2 linked regions of the Homo sapiens genome follow. The protein of the gene in region 1 purifies or fractionates together with the protein of each later gene. This does not show direct contact. Each region holds a gene or a part of one and is shown in the gene's direction. Other genes may lie near its edges.

Region 1 (4,076 bases):
GTTTTCGTGAGCCCGAGCAGCGGCGAGCCCAGGGCGCCGGGCGGCCGGGAGGCTGGTCTGGCTTAGCTGGGCCGAGAGGCCGGAGGGCCGAGTTAGAGCGGCCGGCCTGACTCTCTATGCAACACCCCATCCTTGCCGCACCGAGTGCACTTTAGGGGCCCCTACGGCCGGCGGGATCGGCCTCCCTCCCCCACGACTCAGCAATACCCGCCCCACCGGCTGTGATGCTCCAATAAACTTTTTTATGCTTTTGCGGACGTCGCGCTTACTTTCTTAATGGCAGGGGCCACGGGCCATCCAGAAGCCCGACCCTGGCCAGTGGACCGGGGGCGGGGAGGAGGTCCCTGTATAGTAGGTAGCCACCCAGGCTGCCCTGTGGAGGTGCTCACGTGCGGCTCGTGGTTAGGAAAGGCCTTAGAAGGCGGCCTGGAGGAGGTTATTTTTCTTAAAGATGGGCTTTGCACTGGGAGGCCGAGAGAAAGCAGGCTTTGGGCTCCGAAAGCAGCAGTGGGCGCTGAGGCTGCGAGGCCGTGGGGAGGTGGCGGCGAAAGGAGGGGGCCGAGCCAGGAGGTCCCGCAGCTTTTCCCCGGCAGCAGGGCTGCCGTCGAATGCCAGCATCCTGGGGCTGGGCGAGCGCGATTCGCTCGTAGGGAGTCCCCTCCCTTCTTCCCCACTGCTCCAGGCTCTGAATCCTACCCAAGAGAGCACGGGAGTTGTGGCCTGGGGGTGCCATCCGTTCAGTGGATGGCAGTGCTCTTGAGTCAACCGTATACCCCTGTCACTGAGGGAGAGCTCCTTCCCGATTCCCCAAGCCCCACCAATGCCCCGCGCAGCTCCCCAGTGGCCTCTGGTTGACTCTCTGGGGAGCTGGATCTCTTCTGGAGATTGGGGCCGCTTAGAGCTTTAGGCACATCCCAGGATGGGAGGCTGTTTCCTCAGGGGGCCGTCCGAAGACGCCCCGAACTGCAGAGCGCTGGTCTCGCCGTCGCGAGGACCGCGGAGTTGCGGGGGAGGGGCGGGATGCGGCTCCCGGAGAGTCTCGGGGAGGGCGGGGCCTCGTGGGCGGGGCCGGCGTGACCTTGGTCACTCTCCCGCCGAGACAGCCTCGGGGGTGGGACTCGCCGTCTCTATGGAGACCGAGAAACAGGGGATAATACGGCGGAGCCGCCTGGGCTGCAGTCCCACCCGGGAGCCGGCAGGGAGCGGAGCTGCGGAGCCGCCTGGTCTCCCGCGTCCATCGGTCCATTCCTGCGTCGTTCTGTCCTTCCGAACGCACACTTCAGGAGCAGCCGCGAGGTAGAAGCCCATAGGAGACCCAGATGCCCGCCACCCCAATCAGTATCCTGCACGATGAGGGTTGGGGGGAGCAGCCTGGAAAGGGTCCCAACCTCCGGCGGTCCCAGCCGAGGAGCCAGCTGAGCGGCCCTGCCCTGGCCCCAAGCATTCCACCTCGCAGCCCCCACCTCCTGGTCCGGCTGATTGATGACTCCAGCTGTCCCAGTGGGAGCGGGACGGGTGGCTCCAGTTCACGGGTGTGGCCACTCCATCCATGGCCTGCAGACCCATGGGGCTGCGGCCTGCAACCCAGCGCCACCTGACCGCGCTGAGATGACCAAGAATCCATCTTTCCACGGACAGGAGTGAGCACTGCACGCAGGATCCGCCCAGTGCTTGGGCCAAGCACCCTGTGGCATCCAAGCTCCCCTGGACGTTACCCTTGGTGAACCAAGTGCGGGTCTTGGGGTCCCTGGTGGGAGGTTGCACCCAGGGAAAGGGAAGGGGAGTGCAGCGTGGACTGGGGTTATGGTCCCTGTAACGTAGGAACCACCGGTGCTCACAGTCCCAGAAACTGCCACTTAGGGATGGGAGTGTGGTCACTGGCGAGGAGTTTTTGGTGGAAGATGGGGCAGCCGGGCAGAGCCCAGGCCGTGGTCACTGGAAGCCCTAGTGTAAAAGGCAGAGCTAGAAGATGGTTGCTGAGACCGAGGGTGTGGTCAGGAGGTGGCAGTGGAGGAGGGGGATGTGGTGGGGAGGTCTCTACGCAGGGGATCTCCGCATAGTACCTGGGAGTCTTATAATGTTAGTGTGTGGATGTGGACTGGGGCCTTCAGTGCAGGCTGAGGGTGTGGCCAGAGGGCTGAGGGTGTGTGGACAAAGGGGTGCTGAGGGTCAGGGCGCCTTGATAAAGGGCTGCGGGTATTGGAGGGGGTGAGTGGCTGAGGCTATGGTCAGGGGTCTCAGGAAGGGATGCAGGTTTGTGGCCAGGGGCCTCAGCCCCAGGGCTGCGGGTGTGGGGATGGAGAAGGCTGCTGTGTAGGCTCAGGGTGTGGCCAGGGGTCTGCAGCGGAGGGCTGTGGGTGTGGGGGGCACTTTAGTGCTGGACTGTGGGTATTACTGGGGTTGGCGCAGGCTTGTTAGTATATATGTGGGGGCTGGTGGCCGAGGGCTGTGGCTGTGGGTGTGAAGATGGAGGATGGAGGGCTGAAGGTATGGCCAGGGGTACAAGGCCCAGGGGGTGGCAGGCCAGGGCTGAGTGCACAGGGTCGCTGGGAATGTGGGCTGGTGTGGCCAAGTTCAGGGCGTGGCCAGGGGAGGTCTGAGGTGTAGACATGATGAAGTGTGTTTCAGCCACAGCCCCACTTGCCAGCACGACTCTTGGGGTTCGTAACTCTACAGCCCCCACGCTACTAGCCCCCAACCTCCTGCTCCCCCAAAACTCCACAGTGGGAGGTTACAGCACCAGTCGGTGGCAAGGGGCCAGGAAGCCACGGTTATGCCCTAGGCGCAGGGAGTGCTGGCGTGCCCCACCCGTGGGCCCCAGCTTCCCAGCCCAGCCCAGCCCCTCAGCACTGGGAGCTTCTCCCTGAGCTGCCCTGACACCATCCTGCCCTTAGCAACATTCTCCAAGCAGCACCACCCTCCCTTAGCAACCGTCTCCAGGCTTCACAAACTGTGGCCAGGCCAGCCCCAAGCTCCCCTCATGTTTTTGTTTAACAGCAAATAGTAACAAGGCCTTGCTGGACCAGCTGCACCCCTGCCCAGGGCATGCACCCGTGCCCAGACTGGCTCTTGCTGGGTCCTCATGACCCTTACAGAGATGCTGTCCTCACTGAATGCCTGCCCGACCAGCAGCCTGGCCTGGCCCCAAGCCAGCTTGGCATGGAGCTTCCAGGGAGGGGGCCTGCTCTGCCACCCTCACTTCCACCCAAGCAAGGCCTTGTGCCAGGGCCAGACAAAGCCAGGGCCCCAGCTGCTGCCCTAACAGTCTTTCTGGACAGTGCCACTCTGTTCCCTGTGGGCATCATTATTTCATCTGCTGAACCCTGCTGAGAGCCAGGGCTGGCATTAGTGACAAGACCGTGCCTCCCGGGGCTCTTCCTTGGGGCTCTGTGGCCCAGGGCGACAGTGACGGGCCCCTCTCCCCAGGCAGCTCCAGCACCAACTCTGTAGCAGAACCTGCCCAGGTCTTGCAGGTTTGAGGTAGAGGCTGGGATGTTCTGGGCTTGGGGGAGGGGAAGGGCAGATTGGCTGGGAGATGACCCAGGTGGGTCTCTATAGGGTGGCATGGCAGCGAGCACAGACATGGCTGGGCTGGAGGAGAGCTTCCGCAAGTTTGCCATCCATGGTGACCCCAAGGCCAGTGGGCAAGAGATGAATGGCAAGAACTGGGCCAAGCTGTGCAAGGACTGCAAGGTGGCTGACGGAAAGTCCGTGACAGGGACCGATGTGGACATCGTCTTCTCCAAAGTCAAGTGAGCCCTAAGCAGCCCCTGCTTCTCATGTTCCCAGGAGGTGGGGAACTGGGGGGCTGGAACCAGGGAGGACATCAAGAAGGGGTCAGGGAAACACCATGATCACGAAGGTCGTTCTTCCAGGGCAAACCTTATATCTATTGCCCTCCAGAGTTGCTGACCCCTGCGACTTCCCCAAACGTGGGAAAGAAACGCAATTGCATAATTTGTGGTGGCAGCAAATGTGTTTGAGCTTTCCCCTGGGGGAGAAAAAAGAAAGGGGAACCCTCATGGTGCCCACATGCCTGTCAGGGGGAAGTCTGCTCGGGTCATCAACTATGAGGA
Region 2 (4,972 bases), on another chromosome or scaffold:
AGGGCACAGCTCAGGAACAGAGGGGTAAGAATATGGGCCCAGGGGCCAGATGGCATGGATTTGAATCCTGGCTTTCACTTACTTGTCACCTAGGCCAAGTTATTTAACTTCTTTGTGCTATAGCTTCCTCATCTGTAAATTAGGGACCCTAGTAATACCTACCCAATAGGGTTGTGTGAGGATCGAATGAGATACTGCGAATGCTATAGCACGTTTAGAATGGTGCTTGGCTCTTACTATGTTTAGCTGCTATATGATAATATAGAAACTCAGTTTAAGAGATGTGATTCAGTCTAAATGTTTTTTGTTTGTTTGTTTGTTTATGAGATAGAGTCTCACTCTGTCACCCAGGCTGGAGTACAGTAGCATGATCTCGGCTCACTGCAACCTCCACCTCCCAGGTTCAAGCAATTCTTATGCCTCAGCCTCCTGAGTAGCTGGGACTACAGGCGTGTGCCACCATACCCGGCTAATTTTTTGTATTTTTAATAGAGATGGAGTTTCGCCATGTTGGCCAGGCTGGTCTCAAACCCCTGACTTCAAGTGATCTGCTGGCCTCAGCCTCCCAAAGTGCTGAGATTACAGGCATGAGCCTCCACGCCCAGCCTAAATGTTTGATTACTATTGTTAGGTAGTTAAACTAACCACATTGAGGACCACCTTTGGGTTAGCAGTTCATGAAAACTGAAGGTGTTCCTGTCGGAAATGGGCGGTGCTTACTGGAAGGCTCCATCACTTATGTCTCTGAGGGCATTAGAGTTGTCTGGCAATTTATAGGTTTGAAGCGTTTTCATATGTATAAAAGATATATATGTGTGTGTGTATATATACACACCCACACACATGCACTTCATATATAGAACAGATATAAATATATTACCTAGGATCTAATTGTGAAATTGTATATTTTCCTATCAATGTTTATAGACAAGGAATTGTATAAAGAATACTATCCTTAAAAATGTCTCTAAGTATAGCTCTAAATTATTTCAAGTCCAGGGATTTTACCAAAAAAAAAAAAAAAAGTAGTAGTTTAGTGGTGTTCCATGGTGGTATTTTCAGAGACTTGGGTGGTTTTATATTTTTGCCTATCCTTTGCAGCCTGTATAATGCACCAAGTTTCACTTTACTCAGAAGTGATACCCAAATCATGCCTTTTAAAGGTATGTAAATAGATTTTACACAGAGTAAAATTAAATGTGTAATTTGATTTGGAAACTACATACGTGTCAGATCATTTCAGATGTGAATATTAAATGGTGGACTAAGTCTGGGTCAGAGGAAACTCTTGGCAGTACGGGTCTGTATTAGCCTGTGTGGCTTCTCACAACATCTTTGATTATTTCACTGCTTATTAGCAACTTCTGCAGATGATAGTGTAGGAAGGTAAAGAAAGTTTAGGCTGGGCATGGTGGCTCACACTTATAATCCCAGCACTTTGGGAAGCCAAGGCAGGAGGATCACTCGAGCCCAGGAATTCAGGACCAGACTGGGAAATATAGTGAGACCTCATCTTTACAAAAAATTTCAAAAATATTAGCCTAGCATGGTGGACATGCCTGTAGTCCCAGCTGCTTGGGAGGCTGAGGTGGAGGATCACTTGAGCCTGGGAGGCAGAGGTTACAGTGAGATTAGATTGCACCACTGCACTCCAGCCTGGGCAACAGAGCAAGACCCTCTCTCAAAAAAAAGAGAAAGTTTCAGTTAAATCAGTACTGTTGCTTGGTAGCCGGGTTGGTAAGAAAGCTCTAAGTGAGGTTGCCTAATGGGAACTTCAGAGACCCTCACTGGCTCCAGGTCACTGACAGGCCCCTGTGGGGCCTTTCTGCCTTGTAAAGGCTTCAGGGATCTTTCAGACTTCCCCTTCTTCAAAGGCTTAATCAAAAGAGTTAGACCCAGAAGCCACTGTTGCTATGAAACTGTTACTTATGGTTTGAAACCTGGGAGCAGATGGCATATTTATATAGACCACACCTCCTGGACTCTTTCCAGAGAGACCTTGGTGTATTGTTTATCACGACCTGCAGATTGTCTAATAGGAACATAAATGCCTTCTCTAGTCCTCCTTGGCATGGTGACCACCACTAGTAGAATGAGGATACTATTAGGTACTTTGGCAACTGAGGTAAAATAAACATGGACTCTGAAAGCAAATATATTAGTTCGATGAAGAGCTCTTATTGCTTTCAAATTATTCATTAGCCCATTAGAACTTGAACATTATGAATTATGAAAGAGTTCTGTTTCTGTTAAAAATAAGATAAAACCTGTCCTTGTTTTTTTTTATTATTGAGTTCCATTATTTCTAGGATATAAACAGTATAATTATATATTGAGTACAAGATAATGAAACTAGAACAATTTGCTCAGCCTTATAAAGCCAGCATGGCCTTAATTAGAATAGACAACTGTCTATAGCTCTAAATCAGAGCAAATGTGATATTAGGGTGCTCTTATCAAGGGATTTTAAGGAATGTTTTCAAGATTGGGTAAAGACAGAGTGGGAGGGGAAAAATAAAAGTAAAAAAGCATTGAGAGCTATACAATCAAAACATTAGAAAGCCAATAAAGGTTTGGAGATGAGGAAGGAAAGTCTGTGTGTTTCTGAGCAGGGACTAGTGGCCGTTAGTCGTCCCACTCACCCCATCCTTCCAAAGGTCAGCTGGAGTCCTGGCTGGTGGTCTGTCGGTCCTCTTAGTGAGTTGCCAGTCCTCCTACTGAGTTGCTCCTGCTTAGCATGAGCACAGAGAGCCTCTCGTGGATGACTGGAAGACAGAGAAGCCGCCAGCCAGCCCACGCATGGACTGCTGCCTCACAGGCTCATGCTGGTCAGGGGGACCCAAGCCGATGGCTGTCTCTCTTCTTTGACTTCTGAATAGTTCAGTCACTTAAAAGTAATCTGATTCCTCTACATTTCAGGATAAGTACATTGGCTTATAAGAATGAAGAATGTTATTTCCTTAGAGTGTTGCTAAATCTACAAAATTTAGTATCACAGAGTCATGAAGAACCTGGAAGTTCCACCCCACCCTCACCCTGCACCAGTCCAGTGCTGACCCCCCTCTTCCCACTCCAGGGCAGTCCAGCCTCTACTACACCCTTCCTTCTCCTCAAGGCAGCCATTTGGTCCCAGGTCAGCTCCGTGAGAAACTCTGCCTTTCATTAATGCAGCTTCTGAGGCTTCTGCATTCAAGTCAGCCTCCCTTCCATAAGTCAGTTCCCAAGCCTCATGAGGGCAGGAGCTGAATGTGTCTTCTTGCCCTTTGTCTTCCCCTAGCAGAGTGCCTGACTCCTCGTAGGTGCTTATTAAGTAGTTTTAAAATTCCTCACTGAATTGATCTTAGTTCTTTCATGGTGCCTTAAAATAAGTCCCTCAAACATGTGAATATCACCTTGCAGGCCAGCACACATCCCACATCTTTTGAACCTTCCTCCGATGTAACTTCCGGTTCCTTCAGTGTCCTGATCTCTCTTCTCTGAAAGGGGATCGGTCATCTCTCTTCCTCCAGGCAGAGCCTGGGTGCAGTACAGATCCACTCATCCGCCATAGGGAGAGCCTGGTCGGTTTCTAGCTGAAATCCAGATACACTTTGAACACCACGTTTTCCTTCCTAAGGAGTAGATGCTAGTGTCATGAGATTTGTTCTTAATGACCTTCTTGCCAGAGAAGGCAGAAGCCACATTTAGAAATTCTACTTTCTGTCTATTAAGGATGTAATATCATACCATCTGCTCCAACAGCAGTTTATCCTCTGTCCCTTTTTTGTTTCGTTTTGTTTTCTGCCAAGAAAGAGTAAATGTGTTCTTAGCATTTCCCCCACCCAGATCTTAGCTCACCGAGGTCCCTGGCCTCTTTGCTCTTATGGGTTCTTGCTTCCCTCTTATATTGGCCTTTGGTTACTGGCCCCTCTGACCTCCTATGATCTGCATCTTCTGTGCAACTCCTTATAGCACGGAGCTTGGTGCTCATCTTATTTCCAGTGTGCTTCCTGTCCTTACTCTCTGGAGAAAACCTGGATGATGTCTGTTAAGGCCTCTGCATTCTCTTCTGTCACCCTTCCTTTCCTAAGACCTCCCTGGGATCTGCCTCTCTCCTCTGAACTTCTTGGACTGCCTTAATGAGGTGTGTATATCTGGCCAGACTGCTTTTCCATCCTAAGCTATCGTGAATTCTGGCATGGCACAGTCCCTTTTTTTTTTTTTTTTTTTTTTTGAGACAGTATCCCACTCTGTCACCCAGGCTGGAGTGTAGTGGCATGATCATGGCTCACTGCAGTCTCGGCCTCCCAGGCTTAGGTGAGCCTCCCAAGTAGCTGGGACTATAGGCGTGCCACCATGCCCCATTAATTTTTTCTTTTAATCCCCGGAGATGGTCAGGAAACGGTTATTTTATTTGTTTATTTATTTTTTATTTTGCATTTTTTGTAGAGATGGGGCTTTGCCATGTTGCCCAGGCTGGTCTGGAACTCCCAGGCTCAAGCAATCCACCTGCCTTGGCCTCCCAAAGTGCTGGGATTACAGGTGTGAGCCACCGTGCCTGGCTGGTTGATGGTCACTTTTTCTCAAGGTTTTGGCACATCCACCTCGCCTGTCAGTCTCTCCTGTTCCAGGCAGACCTTGCTGCTCTTGGTCAAAGATTTTTCTCTAATCACACAGGACCAAAAGCCAACACTGAGTGCTGCTCTCTGAGCAATGCCCTGCTCAGTGACAATTGGCTAATTAAAGTGTAAACTGATCTGAAGGCCAGGCTCTCCTGGGATGCTTGCAAATCAGATCAAGTTTACTGCAGGCTCCAGGCTGAAAGACTATCCCCAGAATGGTCCAGTGATCATGATCCATAGCTTTGTATCCAACTCCAGGAGGAGGTTAATGAGCATCATTTACATCATTTTCATTGAATGTGCTTAACACGGAAGGGATTGCCAACAAGAAGCTCCTTGTATGGAGTCAGTTCTCTAGGCCCAGCAGTGTT

What was found. Proteins that work in one complex are often made in the same cells at the same time.
Region 2: the proteins of TPPP3 (region 1) and ARFGAP3 fractionate together in Homo sapiens (co-fractionation; one large-scale study listed by BioGRID). This does not show direct contact.

Annotation. Positions count from the first base shown.
Region 1 is NC_000016.10:67,390,600-67,394,675, reverse strand, and holds the start of TPPP3 (tubulin polymerization-promoting protein family member 3), read left to right. Parts: upstream 1-1,177; 5' UTR 1,178-1,296; intron 1,297-1,638; exon of another isoform or gene 1,639-1,729; intron 1,730-3,303; exon of another isoform or gene 3,304-3,480; intron 3,481-3,558; 5' UTR 3,559-3,564; coding exon 3,565-3,752; intron 3,753-4,043; coding exon 4,044-4,076. Other genes in the region: palmitoyltransferase ZDHHC1, read left to right, coding at 1-10. UniProt on the Homo sapiens protein: Regulator of microtubule dynamic that has microtubule bundling activity. Required for embryo implantation; possibly by regulating beta-catenin. Also required for decidualization via regulation of beta-catenin.
Region 2 is NC_000022.11:42,811,466-42,816,437, reverse strand, and holds part of ARFGAP3 (ADP-ribosylation factor GTPase-activating protein 3), read left to right. Parts: intron 1-4,972.